Linked DNA regions of Homo sapiens. The protein of the gene in region 2 purifies or fractionates together with the protein of the main gene of each other region. This does not show direct contact. Each region holds a gene or a part of one and is shown on either strand. Other genes may lie near its edges. The genes, in order: TACC2 and CKAP5.

Region 1 (9,725 bases), on a different chromosome or scaffold from region 2:
GCCTGGACAAGAGTGAAACCCCATCTCAAAAAAAAAAAAAAAAAAAAAGAAAAAAGAAAGAAAAAGAAAAAACACTGAAATTGAATATACATAGGAGGAAGGATATTGAGATAAGCAAAGTTGTCCGGAGCCCATTTCTGCCCATTTCTGAGGAGGGAATCATGCCCTCTCAGCAAGCCTGGGGTGAATCTCTGGTTTGAGGCTTCATTAAAAGGTGTGGCCATAGTGTCTGAACACAGTATGGGGCCTAGGAATAACGGTGGCACCAAGCGAGTCCAGGTCAGTGACCTACACTGAGAGTTTGACTTGAATGACACTCCCTTGGAGCTGTGTTTATCAAAATCACAGAGGGGACATAAGCCATGGGCAAAGCTCGAGTGGGCGCTCAGGACCCACTCGATGGAGTCCTGAGGTGGAGTTAGAGGGCACCGTGCTGGCTCTTAGCAGGAGTCTTGGGTCAAGGGACAGCTGCTTTCAAGTCTCAGGCTGTTTTCAAACACAGCCTGAGCTGCAAGTGCAGCGGGAGACGTGCAGACGATCTCACAATGATGATCACGTGGTTACCTGGCTGAGAAGTTTCTCTCCTGGCCTTTGGCTCCCTAGGGGCAGGATTCTCCGAGGCAGAGTGGGGGTCCAGCTGGCTACAGAGTTGCTTACCCTCAGTGGGTGAACTGAATTTGGTCTCGTTTACAAAGGTGGACAGGTCCGAGGGCTGCGGGTAGTCCTGTTTGTCAGCCTCTAGGTCCACTGTCATGCACGTCCACTTCTGGTTGGTGACCGCCAGCTTTTCCTCATCTGTGGCGTGGACCACCGCAGAGATCACTGGTGGTGTTTCTGGTGTAGCAGCTGGGGTGGGGTCCTGCAAAGAGAAGAGAAACTGTTTCTTGTCTCATCAGACTCTTGGTCAGAAACTGTGCCCACCCTCAGGTCTGGGGACCCATTAGCCAGGACAGGTCCCGGTCACAATCCTCTGCATGCTCTTCTCAGACTCTGCTCCAAATGGTCCATTAAGGAAACAGATGGACACACAGATTCTTCCCTCTATGAATCTCCTTTTATGATGGTTTGTTTCAGGGAATGACCATGAATTTAAAAAAAAAAAAAATCAGGATTTTGTGTCTTAGTTACTTGAGCATTCCTGCTAGTTTTACGACTGTGACTGCTGTGCGAGGCTCACACAGTGCTTCAGGCCTGCACATCAATATCACCAGAATCACCTGACAAGCATCTCATCAGTCCCTGGAGGCAGAAAAAGGGGGATCTTATCTCCATTTCCACTGGAGAGTGGGAAGTGGAGTAGGGCAGGGTGGGAACCTAGAGAGGTCAGGACAGAGCTGCAGCTGGGACCTGAGCCCCTATCCCCAGGGCTGAGTGCTTCCCTCCACTGCCCCCACTCTGGCCAGGGTCTGCAGGCTGGGGCTTTGCTGGCTCAGATTTGGAGGGGTGGCAGGTCTGTTTTGTTTTATGACCCAGAAATTAGCCCTAACATACTGACAGGCTTGACGATAACTTTCCTTGGTCTGTAAACAGGGTAGAAGAAATGGAATCTATCTGATGGAGGAACTGGTAAGAGGGACTCTAATCAAGACAGAACCTAAGCCCCACTTCTTTAGGGGAGGGGCTTCCCTTTTCTTCCCACTCCAATTTTGGCTGCACAATTCAGTGCTCCTGACACTTGCTGAGTTTCTTCACCTTCTCACTGCATATTTGTTCATCTCAAGAGACTTTCTCATCTCGACAGTCCTAGAAGTTCACAGCAGATGAACTGGCCTGAATGGAGCAGAGTGGGTCCTCCAGAGCCCAACTAATGTTTTTCCTGAACGTCTTCCCACTCTCGGGACACACTCTGATCTTCCGCAAAGTGAAGGGACCAAAACAATGTGAAGCAAACATCGAGGGACCCTCCACACAGAATGCAAGAAGAGGGTCTTGGAAACAGGCCCGGGATGAGCAGAAAGCAAAGCTTTGTCAACAAGCGAAGAAAACCTCCCCCGGGGGGGGCATAAAACCATCAAGATCAAAGGAACACTGTACCTGGGAAGGTGGATCAGAGAGAGGAGACCGTTTTGGCGACTTTTTCACCCTAAATGTGTCACTGGAAACAAAATGGAAAACGTAAACACAACAAGCAGAGGGACGGAACACTCCAGAGCAGTACAGAGCGGACCGAAGCTACTGCCTCTGCGGAGCCATCTGGCCCAGGCCACCCTCCCACCTCTGTCACTCCAGCACCAGCGAGAGGCCACGCCGGCTACCCACTCTCACTTTTTAACAGCTATTATTTTTGCCCCCAAGGGAAAGATCCATCAAGCTGGAGATCTTTAAAGAGATGCCATTTTGGAGAATGACCCAGAAAATGAAGCTAAATTTAACTAAATGTTCGTATTTTATAAAGCAAATTTCTGGTGAGCAGATTAATTTATCTGGATTCTTCCAGGGGTATCTGAACCCAACTAAGGCTAGGGGAGGGGCTCTAGGCTCAGGACACCAATTTACAGACGGGCAAGGCGACACCTCACTTAATGAACAACTGAAGGGGGCCACGCAGAAATAGAAAGTTCGGGGTCCTCAAGGAGAACCTCCTGAATCCTCCCTATCACAGGATCTTTGAGCTCAATGGATTCCCATGCTCTGAAGGCTTCTAGGTGGAATCCTGACTAAAGGTAGGGCCAGGGGAGAGATGATTTTTTTTGTCTTCTCCTAACCATGGTAAACAGACAAGATTCACAGCTCTTCTCTCCCTTTTTCTCCTCCATATGAATAGCGGGGCTGAGAGGCAAAGGAAACCACCAAATCAGACTCCTGAAGGGTCAAGGAAGCAGATCCCAGGAGAAAGGGATGCCTTTTAGCCTGAGCAGTTCCATTAAGTCCACCGAGCAGTCTGGGGGTCACTTCCACAGTCAGAATGGGGGCTCTTTCCACCCTGTAGACTGGCCCCTGCCCCGTCTCCAGCCCCTCCATGGGTTGGTCCCACTCCCAGCAAAGCAAAGGCTTTGGGGGGTGATCCCTCTCCTTAGATCCCACCACCCTCCCCTGCTTTGCATGTTAACTGGGTGGGCAGAGCAATTTGGCATTCAAGTTCCTTCCTTGTGTTCTCTCAAATCACTCCAACAATGGCATTTAATCATGAAAAAAAAATAAATGGCTATTTACAGCATTTATAATATTTGCCATTAAAACAGTGCAATCGCAGCTTGAAGCATATATTTATTCATGCATATAAATATATAACCATATATTTTATAGTTGCTAAGTGGCTCAAAAATACTCAAGAAATCCCTTGGGCAGAAGAGAGTCTGATGGACTCGACCCTATCCTGGGACTGCTGGCCACCTGGACTGGCCGGCTTCCCTTCTAAGGACAGGGAAAAGTTGCATGTCTTTGGACCCCCCCGAGCTGCCCACAGATCCCTCCTGGCCATGGGAGGCAAAGCAGCAGAGGCACAGAAATGGTCAGCTCTGTTTCTACTGACAAGTGGCAGGGTGACCCACAGATGGCAGACAAGGCATGCCGACACCCAGCCAGGTCCTGGGTGACTGAGGATGCAGGACTGGGGCAGCCTGGCGATGGCTCTCACAGCTGTGTGCTCCACTCTGCACTGACCCTGCATTTCAGGGCACTCTGTGGGCCTCAATTTGGAACGGCCCAAATATTTCTGCTTTACATGTTAGCAAGAATAAGCTGTGGCCGTCGCTGCCTGTGGTTAGACCAGACAGTTATTTTAACGTGAAGCCACAGTAGTGTTGAAAGCAATCGCCCACTAGCCCAGTTTAAAATGAAAAAATGTAATGAAGAGTTTAAAAAAAATGTTTGATTTCAGATGAAGACATCCAATATGCAAGGGAAGGAAAAAAGTTCCATTCCTGATAAGCAGGCAGATGCTGGATAATCACATTTTCACAGCCAAGCAGTCTCTTATGCAAATCACTATGAAACAGAAAAGTAATCTTTGCTACTGGGGAGCCCCATGCCCCATCATTCGCAGGCCCACCACAGAAACACATCAGTAGCAGCCAGAGGGGAAATAAAAATGGCTTGGAAGCAGAAACAAAAGGCAGAAAAATAAGCACATTTGGCATAAGAGGCAGATTGCATTAAATTTACTTACAACAGAGAACACACAGACATCACATCTTCAACCATCCTAAGACAAGAAGACAAAGAAAAAGAGAGACAGACAGAAGGAACTGACAAAAAAGATAAATCTGCAGACAACTGGTTATTAATGGGTTAGGATATGGCGGCCACCGCTGTAGGGCAATGCCCCAGCTTTTTGGAAGGAGCTGCTGGGGAACAGCTTCCTCTCTTGATCCTAATGATCCCACAAAGCCGTGGTGCCCCAAGAGCTTTGTCAGACCCACGCAGGGTCTTCCACGCCAAAGTCCCTGTCTGCACTAGAGGTGAGGACACAGTTGGGTAAACTTCCCTGACCCCTGTTAGCTCTAATATTCAAACAAGAAAGTGACTGGGGACGCCTATGAGACACAGAACATATCTTGGAGAAGGAAGAGGTGGCGGCTAAGGTTGGCTCTCATTCCAGATGAGAGAGCACGGCCTTGCAGTCTAGCCATTGCAGACTTCTCCTATTCCAGGCTTGAAATCAAGTTTCCAACGTGAATTCTAGAGAGTCTCTAGTAGGGACCTAGTTGAGTAACTGATCTAAAACAAAGTCCCCATTTTGGCCAGGATGGCCTCCAGCCACCACTAGACAGTGGCAGGTTGATCTAAGGTAACCTGCTGTAGAGACCTCCTCTCAGGAGGCCCTGGGTTCTTCTCAGAAATTCAATGTTAGGGGGAGCCCAGAATGGGAGGTAAACATGTCGTTCTGTCTCTTTCGTGCCAGGCAGACCCAGAGGGGCCAGCGCTGTGGTCTGTTCTGCTGCCCCTGGGAGACTGATCTCCTCAGCCTTGTTAAATTACTGACAATACTTCCCGTAAGAGTAAGGAAATCGCCAAGATATTAACCACAGGGGCCAAAGAATAAAGGACCAGCAGCCATCCACATTAGAGCCGGGTCCTGGGGTGGATTCTGGAGGCATGGGTGTTTGATATTTAAGCACGATGTACTTGGCCTTGTCAAGTGTCTGGGGACCATAGAGCCAAGGACCAATGGCTTCCTGGGGATTGTGGGGATTTGCTCCCCACTTTCAGGTTCCATTTATCTCTTCAGAACTTGCAGGGACTTTGTCTACAAAAGATGACTGGAGAGAAGGAAGGAGACAAAGAAGGGTGTTTCTTACGGGCTGGTTGGAGTGCAGCAGGGAGGGGCCCAGGCCACATCTCTCATTCCTGAGCCTCCTGGAATCTACTATGTTTGTAGGTTGGGCTAATGTCTCATTAATAGGCAGAAACAAGTACTATACATTTTAATATTTTAAAGGGTGTATCTCCCAGCTTCTCCAAAAAGCAATCAGTCACCAACAGGGAGATGAACCAGATCTCTAAGGACCTTTCCCCTTCCATGGGATCTCCCAGATTGCTCTGGAGTTGAACATTAGGTCTTTGGCTACAAGTAAAGCTCCAGCCCATTGATTTATTAAAGCAAAAGATCAAGGACACAAAGGGGTATGTGGATGGGAAAATGCCACCACTGTGACCGCAGAGAGGAAGGAAAACACGTACATTGTCTGCTTGGTGCAACGGCCGTAAGCGTGGCATCATCACAGCACCCAGGGGCAAGGTTAGGGCAGTCGAAGGTTATCCAGGCACATGACCAAGGGTCACAGCCAATGCGCACCCCCGCCTCTGATCCTTACCACCTCCACCCCTGAACTTACGTCTTTAGGGGCGTCTTCTTCTTCTTGGCGGGCTTGTTTAGCCCATCCCCGTCCACTCCATTGGCTTCCATAGCACTGGCTGGGATCTCAAAGGAGGCTGGGGATTTAGAAGGTGAGCTGGGGGTCTTAGAGGATGTCTTAAAGGGGTCAACGGACTCATCACAGGTGTCTGGGTCAAAGTTGTATGATTGTTGGGGCAGTTTGGGAGACTCCTGCATTTTTGAGGTGGAAGAAAAAGGGTTAAAATTGGGGTCATCCCACTTGTCAATATCAAAGGTGTAAGTACCTTTAGCAATGGGGATGTCATTGGGTTCAGCAGGGGATCTGGGAGGTGAGGCAGGAGTGTTGTCAAGTTTCTCGGGTGTCTTTTTCATCTTTGGCCTCCTCAGGGGCATTTTGGCAACTGGCTTTTTGCCTATCTTTTTGGTAGGAGGGGGGTTTTCCTGCTGGTTGTCCCAACTACTCTTGTCCTCAGAATAGTCAAACTCCAGCCTTACGGAGAGCCCTTTGGCTGGAGAGTCCTCTTGCCCCCCGCTATCCGATGGGGTTACCTCCCCTGCCTCCGGGGCCGTGGTAAGAGGCAGCGTTTTCCTCCCGACAGGGGGTGAGTTCTGCACTCTGCCACCTCCAGAAGCCGGGGGGACAACCCCTTCTGCACTCTCTGAGTCCAGAGGGCAGGCAGCTTTGGGCCCCACAGCGGGCTCAAGGGGCGTCTCCTCCAATAAGGCTGGGCTAGGACCTTCCGTCTTGGCAGATTCCGTTTTCGTCTCAGATGCTAGATTCTCCCCACTGGGGACAAGGCTCTCTTCATCTGGCTCCTGTTGCGTCTCCTTCACTGGGGGGGTCTCTGTGGGTTTCTTGGTGGTCTGTTTCTTTTTTAAGGAAGGCGGCCTCGGTTTTTTAGTTCGCTTAAGGGTACTAGAAGCACTGCTGGAACCCGTGCTATATGCATCTGGGGCAAGGGCCACGGCCTCGGGATTGCCTGAGGAAGAAGCACCATCAAAGTCACTGGCTTGCAGGCTGAGCGACCGGGACAGTGTAGACTTAGAGATGGGGACGGAATCCGTGGACTTCCTCCGTGTGTTCACTTTGCCCTCCTGATTCTTAGCGTCTGAGGCACGAGGCTCCAAGGTCTGAAAGGTATCCACAAGCTCAATGTTGTCAAAGTCCAAGTTGTAAGTCCCACTGCTGGCTATCGGCTTGTCTTCATCGAAGACGGCAGAGAAGGAGTGTGACGGGGGACGGAAGGGACTTCCTTCCACCGAGTCGCTCCGTGGGCCATCAGGGACAGGGACTGTCTCAGAACCACATCCTGGGGAAACACAGACAACGCCATCAATTACAGACACAGGACGCATTGGGGCACCTCTCCTCTTGTACCAAAACATCACCCTCCAGCGTAGGGGTTGACAAACCACGGCCCCAGGCCACCCCGCCCATCACTGTGTGTACTACTTGGGTACAGAACCTGACCTACCCGTAATTAGCTCAAGACCCAGGCCAGGTTCGCCCAGAGTTCCCTCATCTGTACAATGAGGATCATGAGGACCGATTAAAGAACAGCTCAGAGTATTCATTCAAAAACATTCACCAAGTGCCTAATCAGGACCAGACATGGTTCTAGGTACTAGAGATTCAACAAGGAACAGAAATAGACAAAACCTTTCCCTTCCTGGAAGTCACATTCTTCAGGGGAAGATAGCGAATAAACCACCAGGGCCGGGCATGGTGTCTCACACCTGTAATCCCAGCACTTTGGGAGGCCGAGGCAGGCAGATCACTTGAGGTCAGGAGTTTGAGACCAGCCTGGTCATCATGGTGAAACCCAGTCTCTACTAAAAAAACACAAAAATTAGCCAGGCATGGTGGTGAGCGCCTGTAATCCCAGCTATTCCGGAGCCTGAGGCAGGAGAATCGCTTGAGCCTGGGAGCCAGAGGTTGCAGAGAGCCGAGATTGCGCCACTGTACTCTAGCCTGGGTGACAGAGTGAGTGAGACTCTGTCTCAAAAACAAACAAACAATGTACAGAATTTCAGAGGGTGATACATGCTAAGGAGAAAAATAAAGCCGGGATAGGAGAGTTTCACTTTTAAAATAAGGTAGTCAGGCAAGATCTTCTGAGGAGACATCTAAGCAAAGGCCAGAATCAAGGTAAGTGCATGAAACAGGAGGACTCCTGGGGAGGAAGCATCCTGGGTAGAAGGAATAGTGCGAGTAAAGGCTCTGCGGCAGGAGCACCTGGTGCGTTACAGAAACAGCGAGGAGGCCAGTGTGGCTAAAGCAAGGGTCAAGAGTGGGACAGGAAGACAGAGAAATCCTGCAGGAAGGCATACGGAGGCTTCCATAAATATTCATACTAGCCACGGCCACCAGCAAGCCTGTTCTTGACTCCTCAGAGCCACTGTGAAGATCAGGGGAGCCTGTACACGGAGGCCCCCGGCACCTGTAGTAGCACTTGCTGTCTGCCACCTGCCGCTCCAGCCATCACCTGTAACCTCTCCTTCAGTCCTGCCTGCCTATCCTTGGCCCTGCCTCTTGCCTAGTCTCACTGCTCTCCCAGCTGCCTCCTCTCAGCTTTTCTACCTCATCAGCCCCTGCCAGTCAAGGAGGTTGCTCCTATTTCCCAAACATGCTGCAGATGCTGCAAATGTTGGCCAAATGATGCTCAAAGGTGCCACCACCCTACTGCCCATGGGGATCCGGCCAGCCCCAGCTTTGGCTTGGCTACTCTAGGTTCTGCTGGCACCCAGCGGCATCTTTCATGCATTTCTGAGGTCACAGCTGCTCCAGGCAGTCAAGGATGCCAGAAAACTAAAAGTGTGTCATTGGACAAGAGGGCAAACACGATAAAGCGGTCTGCAGGCCTAAGTACTGGGAGATGCAGAATGAGGAGTAAACGGAGCTGGCACAGGTAAGACCTGGGACAGCGTTTCCAATGTGTGCCTCGTGACAGGTGTTATGTACCCCCAGTCCCCTTCTGCCACCGGCATGGTTGCCAGACAAAGGACAGGATGTTCAGCTGATTTGAATTTCAGATAAATGAACATGTTTTTTAATATAAGTATGTCCCATGTCTCGATGATTCTTTGTTTATCTAAGATTCAGATTTAATGGGCACCCTGTATTTTCATTTGCTAAATCAGGGAGCCCTATCTCTCATCCCAACAAACAAACAAGGTTTGGGAAATGCACAATTAACCCCTGAACTGGTCTCTTCCTGTCGATTTTCTCAGAGCAATTCATGCTCCCGACTGCAAATCTCTGGGCAGTGAGTATTCTGCAGAGTGCTTACCAAGCTTTGCTCATAGCAACCTTTCTCCTGGAGTACCTGGCAGAGAACTCAGCTCACAACACAAGAAAACTTCAAGGTTCTTGAGTTCAGGAACTGGCCTTGGCTTTGTTTCCCCCTTGACTGGTCACACTTTCTTACAGGATCAATAAACGCTTGGATTGAAAGCATCATTTGGAAGCACATCTATGAGCTAGTCCTGGTTTCAAGCCTCTCACTCTCCTCTTCTCCACCCAGGGCCTACCTGGAGCAGACGCCCTAAATACGGAGCTCTTTCTACCAAACGGTTTCTCCAAACACTCCTTCCTTCTCATTTCAAAAGGTGTTGCCTCGCTTCTTTCTAAAATCAACTCCCTGTTTCCTCTAGGCCCTAGTACTCTCAAGTACCCCATCCTCCCACCAGCCGTGACCTCCTCTTCCTGCTCTGTAATTGCCCCTGGATACACGGAGGGAACAGAGGACCAGGGGATGCTGAGGGGGACCAGGTGCTTTCAAATGGGCCTTGGCAGGAGGAAGCACGAGCCTCAGCCTATCCCGTCGTCAAGGCCCACAAACACCAACCCTCTCCCTCTCAGGCCGTTACACGTGCCTCTGCAGCCTGCAGAAGGAAGCCTTCGGAGGCCCTTCAAATGTCAGCAGTTATCACGCAACAATGAGCT
Region 2 (9,725 bases):
CCGTAACAATTAACATGCCTTTTACTTTATTCTCCATTACTTTAAAGTCTTGATCAGTTTTGAATTATGTTTGAATTATGAACAGTGGGTGTGGTAATTCCATCGCAGTCTTCTACTACTGACAGTTCAGTTTTAGCAGCACCTGTTTTTTTGGTGTTTTTTGTTTGTTTGTTTGTTTGTTTTTTACCTTCACGGTTTATTGTAAAGGATGCTACAAAGCATACAGATGAAGAGAGGCGTAGGGCTTGTAGGTATGGGAGAAGGGTGTGGAGCTCTTATGCTCTCATATGAAGTGTGTTTGAATATACCAACTCTCCTGTAAACTTTTATCTTAATTCCATCAACACTCACTTTCTTTTCCTTTTTTTTTTTTTTTAAGACAGAGTCTTGCTCTTTCGCCCAGGCTAGAGTGCAGTGGTGCGATCTCAGCTGACTGCAACCTCTGCCTCCTGGGTTCAAGCGATTCTGCCACCTCAGCCTCCCAAGTAGCTGGGACTTCTTGTGTGCACCACAATGCCCAGCTAATTTTTTGTATTTTTAGTAGAGACAGGGTTTCACTATGTTGGCCAGGCTGGTCTCGAACTCCTGACCTCAAATGATCCACCCGCCTCAGCTTCCCAAAGTGTTGGGATTACAGGTGTGAGCCACCACACCTGGCTAACCCTCACTTTTCTAACTGTAGCTTCTATTAGGACTTTATCAACAGGTTTTGTTTTTGCAATACTAGGTAGGGGAAGTGTTCCCCAGCCAGACATAATATCCATTCCTAATAAAACACATTTACATATAGGAGACACAGCTTCCAACTTTCATAGTTCTGTCAACACTTACATCTTTGTGTTCTCTCAATTTTTTTTTTTTTTTTTTTTCAATCAGATCTCACTCTTTCGCCCTGGCTGGAGTGCAGTGCTGCTATTATGGGTCACTGCAGCCTCCACCTCCAGGGCTCAGGTGATCCTCCCATCTCAGCCTTCCGGTAGCTGGGACTACAGACGTGCATCACCATGCCTGGCAAATTTTTTTAGTTTTTGTAGCGATGGGGTTTTGCCTTGTTGCCCAGGCTGGTCTCGAACTCCTGGGCTCAAGGGATCCTTTTGTCTCGGCCTCCCAAAATGCTGGGATTACAGGCGTGAACCACTACGCCTGGCCTTCTCTTAATCTAACTGTAGCCCTGTTCGGGGCTTCACCAATGGCTCTTGGTACTACTGTACCTGGGGCTTCCATATGAAGGAGTCCCAGGAATTTCTTTTTGCCACTCCCTGACCATTTTACCTACTTATATACAGAAGGCTTGGGGTCCCCAGCAGGTGGTTGAGCCAAGAGACCCTTGCCCATTTGCCAGTCTTTATCTTGACTCATCTACCTATTGTTTCCACAATTTCAGATCAGATTTCTCATTGTAATCTGCCTCCTGACTTACAATTTCTCCAAACTGGGGTAAATATAGCAAACTTGTTTGGAACCCCTTAATGGTGGGAGACCAGCAGGGTCTCCCTTTGGCTCCCAGGCTAGTCTTGAACTCCTGGGCTCAAGTGATCATCCTGTCTTGGCCTCCCAAAGTGCTGGGATTATAGGCATGAGCCACCACACCCTGCTACCTTACTTCTTTTTTTTTTTTTTTTTTTTTTTTTGAGACGGAGTCTTGCTCTGTCACCCAGGCTGGAGTGCGGTGGCGCGATCTCGGCTCACTGCAAGCTCCGCCTCCCAGGTTCACGCCATTCTCCTGCCTCAGCCTCCCAAGTAGCTGGGACTACAGGCGCCCGCTACCAAGCCCGGCTAATTTTCTGTATTTTCAGTAGAGATGGGGTTTCACCTTGTTAGCCAGGATGGTCTCGATCTCCTGACCTCGTGATCCGCCCGCCTCGGCCTCCCAAAGTGCTGGGATTACAGGCGTGAGCCACCGCGCCCGGCCTACCTTACTTCTTAATAACCATTTAAAAATTTCCACCTTCCGGGTTGAATCCATTTGCCCTCTGTCTCACCATTCTCTTAACCTAATGGTTTTATTAGCATCTGTAAGACCCACGAGAGGAAACTGAGACAGCACATTTGATAAGGCTTCTCGAACTGTCTTTTGATTTTGCAACAGTAAGGTTATCCACATTAAGGGGTCACCCTTAACCACAGCATTTACCATGACTGGGTAGTGGGCATATTCAGAGGGTAAATGTCCTAGTCATCATAAAGCCAGTTTCACATGGCTTGCATATGAAGTATATCAGTGGCTCTATCTGGATCTGGGGTGTTCCACTTGGCATTTATGGAATCAGACTGTCCCCTTCAGGAAGCTTATGATACTAATGTACAAAGTGAAACAATTCCTTCACATTGTACCCCCTGGTTTCAATAGTTCTTTGATTTTTGCAGACCACCTTCTTTGTTACCAGAGGTCTTAGAAGCACTTTCTGTTGTCCCGGCATACATTTTTCCCTTGAGGGACAGCTTTGAGGTTAGTGGCCTAAGCTCTCACATTCACTGAAAGCTGAGCTTGGTCTAGCGGGAAGGTCCAACCCACCACTTTCTTTTAATTTCATTTTAGCTGTTACAGATAACAATAACCAAGGGATTTAACATTTCGCTTTTTTTTTTTTTTTTTTTTTGAACCAAAGTCTTACTCTTTCTCCAGGGCTGGAGTGCAATGGCACGATCTCGGCTCACTGCAACCTCTGCCTCCCAGGCTCAAGTGATTCTCCTGCCTCAGCCTCCTGAGTAGCTGGGATTACAGGCGTGAGCCACAGCACCCGCCTAAATTTTTTGTATTTTTAGTAGAGATGGAGTTTCACTGTTAGCCAGATGGTCTCAATCTCCTAACCTCGTGATCCTCCTGCCTTGGCCTCCCAAAGTGCTGGGATTACAGGCGTGAGCCACCGTGCCGAGCCAGCATATCACTTTTTTAATACTAGTTTGCATTTCCTTGTGCATCCTGTGAACCAACTCCCAGGCAGTTGGATCCATCTCTGGATTCCATGGATAACTTTTACCTTTAGTAATTGATGACAGCACAGCTTCAGCTCTTTACCATGGGTGACCACTTGGCCACCTAAGAATCAAAGTTCTTTATCCCTATCCTTTTATCCTTTTTCTTCCCAAACCATATGTGTCTGTGAGCCAAGTCATTCTAGCAAATCCCAATTCTGACGCCAATTCTGAGAATATAGAATAAGAAACTTTAATAAGTTTATCTTATACTCTCACAATACAGAAAACTTCTGTGACCTCAGATGTGTGAGATTTTTTTCCCCACACACCAAGCAAGTAGTTCTTCAGCAGTGGACACTAGCTGTGTGTCCTCTAATTCAGTTCAATTCTGACACCTTTTTTTTTTTTTTTGAGACAGAATTGCTCTGTTGCCCAGGCTGGAGTGCGGTGGCGCAGTCTTGGCTGACTGCAACCTCTGTCTCCCGGGTTCAAGAGATTCTCCTTCCTCAGCCTCCCGAGTAGCTGGGATTACAAGAACCCACCACAACACCCATCTAATTTTTTGTATTTTTAGTAGAGACGGGGTTTCTCCATTTTGGCCAGGCTGGTCTTGAACTCCTGGCCTCAAGTGATCCGCCCGCCTCAGCCTCCCAAAGTGCTGGGATTACAGGCATGAGCCACCTCACCTGGCCAATTCTGACACTTTCTATCTGGAGGTAGTGTCAGATCCCACAGGTTGAGGGTTTAGTCCCAGAAGACTGCCCCCAACTCAGATGCCAATCTGAAGCCCCAGGTTTTTTTTTACCTGTGCTTCTGTAGGCTGACTATAAAAATGGGCATTCCTAATACCGCCCCCCATTCCCTGCCTTGGGTTTGATTAATTTGCTAGACCTGTTCATAGAACTCAGGAAAACACATTTTCCAGCCAGTTTATTATAAAGGATATTGCAAAGGATACAAAGAGCTATATAGGGTGAGGTATAGGGGAAGAGGCATGGAGCTTCCATGCCCTCTCTGGGCACACCACGCTCCAGGGACCACCATGTGTTCAGCTCTCAGCTTCTCCAGCAGCAAAGTTTTAATTGCAATAAATTTGAGTACCTTAATATTATGAACACTGTTCTAGGTTTTTGGTAAGCAATTAAAAATAATAAACAACTTTAACAGTGCCTTAGGATAAGTGTTAAAAATTTTGACAGGGAATGAGTATGTTAAGGTAAAGCCAGGCTCTCTTATGCTCCTTTAATGGGGTCTTATTCATTCATTGAACAGATATTGAGATTGATGCTTAATGTCTGTCACACATTGTTCTAGATTCAGGGAATACACTGGTGAACCAGAAAAAGACAAAGGCCCTGACCTAAGGGAGTTTGACAGTTTTATCTGTCAAACAATTTACTGTAGCAAATTATAGTTTCTGTAATCCCTCTGGGGTCAGCTCTGGTCCTTGAATAAAATACATGCCCAGATACTTTTACTAGCAGTAGCTAACATGTATTGAATGCCTACTGGGTCCCACATTTTGTTTAATTAATTAATTAATTAATTTTTTTGAGACAGGATCTCACTCTGTCGCCCAGGCTGGAGTGTAGTGGTGTGATCATGGCTCACTGTAGACTCAACCTCCTGGGCTCAATCTGTCCTCCCACCTCAGCCTCCCAAGTAGGTGGGCCTACAGGCACATGCTAATTTTTGTATTTTTTGTAGAGATGGGGTTTTGCCATGTTACTCAGGCTGGTCTCAAACTCCTGGGCTTAAGCAATCTGCCCTCCTTACCCTCCCAAATTGCTGGGGTTACAAGCATGAGCCAACATGTCCCGCTACATTTTATCTTTTTTTATCCTCACAATGTTTTACAGATGAGGAAACTGAGTCTTTAAAAGGCTGTGCAACATGCTCAAAATCATAGAACTAAGTGATAGAATCTGAATTCAAACCCAAGTCAGTCTGTCTCCAGGGCCTTTGCTCTTAACCTATGATTGTACTACGTGAAGTAGGGATCTGTAGGAGAATTCAGGAGCAATTTCTGGGTAGAATTCCCCCAGCCCCTTTTAAAAAAGTACTTCTATCGGAGATGTGATGAAATATGAATGACAGGCATGATAGTTTTTAGAGGAAAGATGGCATTTACCATATGGAAGATGGACAACTGTGACAGTGGTGGCGGTGGGTAGCTAAAGGGACGCATAAAAATTGAGTTCTTAATCTAATTAGGATTCTTGGTAGTCAATGTTGGAGAGTTTTAAGGTTTTTAAATGATTTTCCTATTCTTGCCTCTGGAGTTTAGAATACATTACTTAGCTCATTTCTATCAGGGCAGTTACTCTACCTACTTGATGTGTATAACTCCAACACATTACGCTTATTCTTTTCGGTCTTTGCATTCTGTTCTGGAACTTCTCACTTCACTCTACCCCTACCCCCAGCCTGTATTACTGGCACTCTCAGGCTTCAACTTAAATGTCATCTCCTTAAAGAGACACTTTTCTGAGCTCTGAATTAGAGGAGCCCTCTTGGTCACTTTTACTTCACTTTTCCTTATTTACTTCATAGCATATATTGTTATGTAATTGTTTATTGTTTGTCTATATATTGTTAGATTTTCTCATAAAAATGAAAGCAGAACATAGATTTTTTTTTTCCTTTGAGGTTACCTCAGTGACTCAACAATGCCTGCAACAAACTAGGTGGTCAAAAATATTTGTTGAACAAAATTGGCCAAAACTGGCATCATCTTCTCTGAACAAAAAAGTGATAAAAACAGTATCTGACTATTCAGTTGGCTGTGTTTCTGTGTCTTTATTTATTTTTTTTTATTTTTATATTCTAAAAATGTTGCGACAATGGTGGCTCAGCAATTTTTTTTTTTTTTTTTTTTTTTTTTTGAGATGGGGTCCCACTCTGTCTCCTAGGCTGGAGTGTGTTGGCCTGATCTCTGCTTACTGCAACCTTCACCTCCCGGGCTCAAGGGATCCTCTCACCTCAGCCTCTAGTGGCTGGGACTACAGGCGAGTGCCACCACACCCGGCTAATTTTTTTTTTTTTTTTTTTTTTTTTTTTTGAAGAGGCAAGGTATTACTATGTTGCCCAGGATGGTCTTGAACTCTTGGACTCAAGTGATCTGCCTGCCTCGGCCTCCCAAAGTGCTAAAGTGCTAGGATTACAGGCGTGAGCCACCGTGTCTGGCTGTCATTTTTTTCTTTTTGTGGAGACACAGTCTCAGTATGTTGCCTAAGCTGGTCTTGAACTCCTGGCCTCAAACAATCCTCTCGCTCCAGCATCCAAAGTGCTGGGATTACTGGTGTGAGCCACTGCACCAGGCTTGTTCCTGTGTTTTTGGGTGTAAGCAGTATCTTAACAGTCTCAATTAGTCTTAAAATTATTTTAGACTAGTTCAGAAAGTCTTTAAGAAAGCTAGAAAAATTATACATCTGAATTTTTTAAAAAAATTTTAATCTGTTTTGAGAGGTACTAGTCAAATACATTGTAAGATGTCCTTCTATTGGAATTTGTCTGATGTTTTTCTCATTAGACTGGAGTTACAGGTTTTGGGCAGGAAGACCACAGAGGTAAAGTGCCATTTTCATCACATCATATCAAGGGTACATGCTATCAACATGATTTATGACTTAATATTGACCTTGACTGTTCATATTGACCTGAAATAGTGTTTGTGAGGTTTCTACAGTGAATTTACTTTTTTTTCCCCTCCTTTTCTATACTGTATTCTTTGAAGGGAAGTCACTGTTTGCAGCCCACACTTAAGGAATGGGGAGTTCCTTGATCTTAGGGTGGAGTACCTACTTAATTTATTTGAAATTCTTGTCTCTCCTTTCCCATTTATTAGTTTAGTCAAGTATTTACTGATAATAGTGTGGACTCAAGTATATTTATTTTATATTTTAGGTTACACTCCAATATTACATTATTTTGTTGTTCAGGTTGTTCCAGCTTTGTCCTTTGGGAGCTTCCTGTATTCCTTTAACATACATGTGTGTGTGTGTGCGCGTATTTGTATTGATCTTTGAGTACTTCCTTACTATCTGGAAATGTTCCAGGCTCATCTTGTGTATTTCTTGTCCCAGTGCTAGAATCAGCCATTTCCCCAAGGTGCCCTGGTTCCCTTATTGGAGAATGCTATTAGAAACAAGACCTGGGTACTGAGTGTTCTCTTTGCTACTGGGGTGTCATTTCTTTTAGGTCCTTTCAACTGTTAGAGCAAAGAAATATATGAATGTATGCTAACCCCATGTATATAGACATATCTATAAATATTTCTCTATGTAGCCATCTGTGTCTATATTAAGTTAAACGAGTTCCATAGATCACTTTCAGTAGTATGGGCGGGGGGGAAAAACATGAGTTCCTACTGGTGTCTCCAATTCTGATCCATTATCACATAGATCATTCTAGCCTCCTCCCCTTGCTGATCTTTGAATTTCCATTCACAATAGTGAAAAACCTAATTTCCACCATCCATTTATTTAATTGTCCAGTTCCATTATATATGGATATACATACATGGATAGCAGTATCAGAATTGCTAACCCATACTCCATGAAAAAAACTTTATCAACTAGAGTACATACTTCTGTGCAGTTCCTTTTGCCCTTAATCTTTCAGACTCCACTCATTACCAAAGCTACTTAGGTCAGAACCTTTTTCCCACCCCCTTTGGTGAAGTTGTTTCACACATCTGTAATATAGATTCCCTTGTCATAGTCTTCATTCTTTTCTGCAATCTCCCAGTCTCCTAAATGACTTTTTAAAATTTGCATACATTAAAGTTCACTCTTTATGTCATAAAAGTCTCGAACTCCTGCCTTGGCCTCCCAAAAGTGCTGGGATTAACAGTACAACCCACTGTGCCCAGCTGACATAAATTTTTAATTCAGTTGGATAAATACCTAGAAGCAGGTTGCTGGATCATATGGTAAGACTAGTTATAGTTTTGTAAGAAACTGCCAAACTCTATTCCAGAGTGGCTGTACCATTTTGCATTCCTATTAGCAATGAATGAGAGTTCCTCTTGCTCCACGTTCTTAACAGCACTTAGTTCTATCTGGTTTTTGGATTTTAGCCCTTCTGGTAGGTATGTAGTGTCCCCACTTTATTATTATTATTATTTTAAAGAGATGGGGTCTCACTGTGTTGACCAGGCTGGTCTCAAACTCCTGGCCTCAAGCAATCCTCCCATCTCAGCCTCCTGAAATGCTAGGATTATAGGTTTGAGCCACTGTGCCTGACCTAGTGTTCTCACTTTTTAAAATTATTCGTTTTCACGACATTACCTTTTTTGAAAATAAATGTTAGTTTTTTAAGAGGAAACTTTTTAAAAATTAACTTTATTTTGGAATAATTATAGATTGTTCCAACAGAAAAGTTGCAAAGATGATGTGTAGGATTCCTGCATACCTCTCACCCAGTGTGCCCTGTTATTAACATCGTTTAAACAAACTCCAGATTCTGTTTGTGTTTCAACAGTTTTTCTATTCATGTGCCCATTCTGTTTCAGGATCCAATTCAGGGTAACATATTGCACTTCGTGGTCATCTCTATTAGCCTTCTCTGGTCTTTGGCAATTTCTCAGTCCTTCCTTGTTTTCATGACCATGACCATTTTGAGGAGTACTAGTCAGTTGTTTTGTAGACTGCCCTTCTCTTTGTCTTTGTCTGATATTTTTCTCATGATTAGTCAAGAATTACGTGTTTTTGGAAAGAATACCATAGAATACCATATCATATCAGGGGTTTTGTGATATCCATGTGACATCATTAGTGATATTAACCATGATCACTTGATTAAGTTAGTGTTTGCTAGGTTAAGTATTAAAGTTAGTATTTTTCCCTTTCTATAGCTATTCTTATGAAAATGAGTAGCCAGGTCTAGCCCACCCCCAAAGTGGGTGAAGGGATTAGATTCCACTTCCCGGAGTTAAGGGTATCTACATATATTCGGAATTTTGTAAGGAAGATTTGTCTCTTTTCACCCATTTATTGCTTTATTCCACTGTTTGTATCTTATGGACTAGTGTGTATGTGTGAGTGTGTATTGGCTTGTGTATATTTATTCTGTACTTTGAGATTTTATAATCTATTTTTTTCCGTCGAATAATTCCAGCTTTGACTGTTGGGAGCTCTTTTTGGTTGGCTCCTGTGTCCCTTTGACATGCCCCCATCTTTTTAATTTTTTTTTTCTTTTTGAACACTTTCTTATTTTCTGGTACTTTAATATGCTCCAGGCTCATCTTTTATTTTCTCTGCTCTAACCCTAGAATTAGACATTTCTCCAAAGATTTCTGGTTCCTTTTGCTTGGTATTTAGAAACCGAGATCTGGATACTCTGCCGTCTGCTCCTTGCTAGTGGGGTGTCAGTGTTTCTAGGCCTTCTCAGCCAAAACAGCCAGGTAATATATATATGTATTTTAAAGGATAATGGTGGATGATTATTCATTTATACTTTATTTTTATTTTTTTAGTTGATATTTTATTTTATTGACTTCTCTCAAACAGATTCTATTCACTCTTCTATGCACAATTTCAGCCTGCTTGGTTCTTTAAATCAATTGCTAAATTAGAAAGAAGGCACTGCTACAAGATAACTAGAAGTGTTAGCTTGATCACAAAGGTCGCGAAACGAAAGCTGTAAAATATAAAGCCAGCCTGAGCAACATAGACAGACCTCATATCTAGGAAAAAAAAAAAAAATTAGCTGGGAGTGGTGGTGCATGCCTGTGGCCCAGCTACTTGGGAGGCAGAGGTGGGAGGATTACTTGGGCCTGGGAGGTGGAGGCAGCAGTGAGCCAT

The links.
Region 1: the proteins of CKAP5 (region 2) and TACC2 purify together in Homo sapiens (affinity purification with mass spectrometry, with the first as the bait; 2 studies listed by BioGRID). This does not show direct contact.

Annotation. Positions count from the first base shown.
Region 1 is NC_000010.11:122,207,761-122,217,485, reverse strand, and holds part of TACC2 (transforming acidic coiled-coil-containing protein 2), read right to left. Parts: intron 7,613-9,725; exon of another isoform or gene 7,517-7,612; intron 7,090-7,516; coding exon 5,778-7,089; intron 4,145-5,777; coding exon of another isoform or gene 4,109-4,144; intron 2,096-4,108; coding exon 2,035-2,095; intron 860-2,034; coding exon 658-859; coding exon of another isoform or gene 565-657; intron 1-564. UniProt on the Homo sapiens protein: Plays a role in the microtubule-dependent coupling of the nucleus and the centrosome. Involved in the processes that regulate centrosome-mediated interkinetic nuclear migration (INM) of neural progenitors.
Region 2 is NC_000011.10:46,834,873-46,844,597, reverse strand, and holds part of CKAP5 (cytoskeleton-associated protein 5), read left to right. Parts: intron 1-9,725. UniProt on the Homo sapiens protein: Binds to the plus end of microtubules and regulates microtubule dynamics and microtubule organization. Acts as a processive microtubule polymerase. Promotes cytoplasmic microtubule nucleation and elongation. Plays a major role in organizing spindle poles.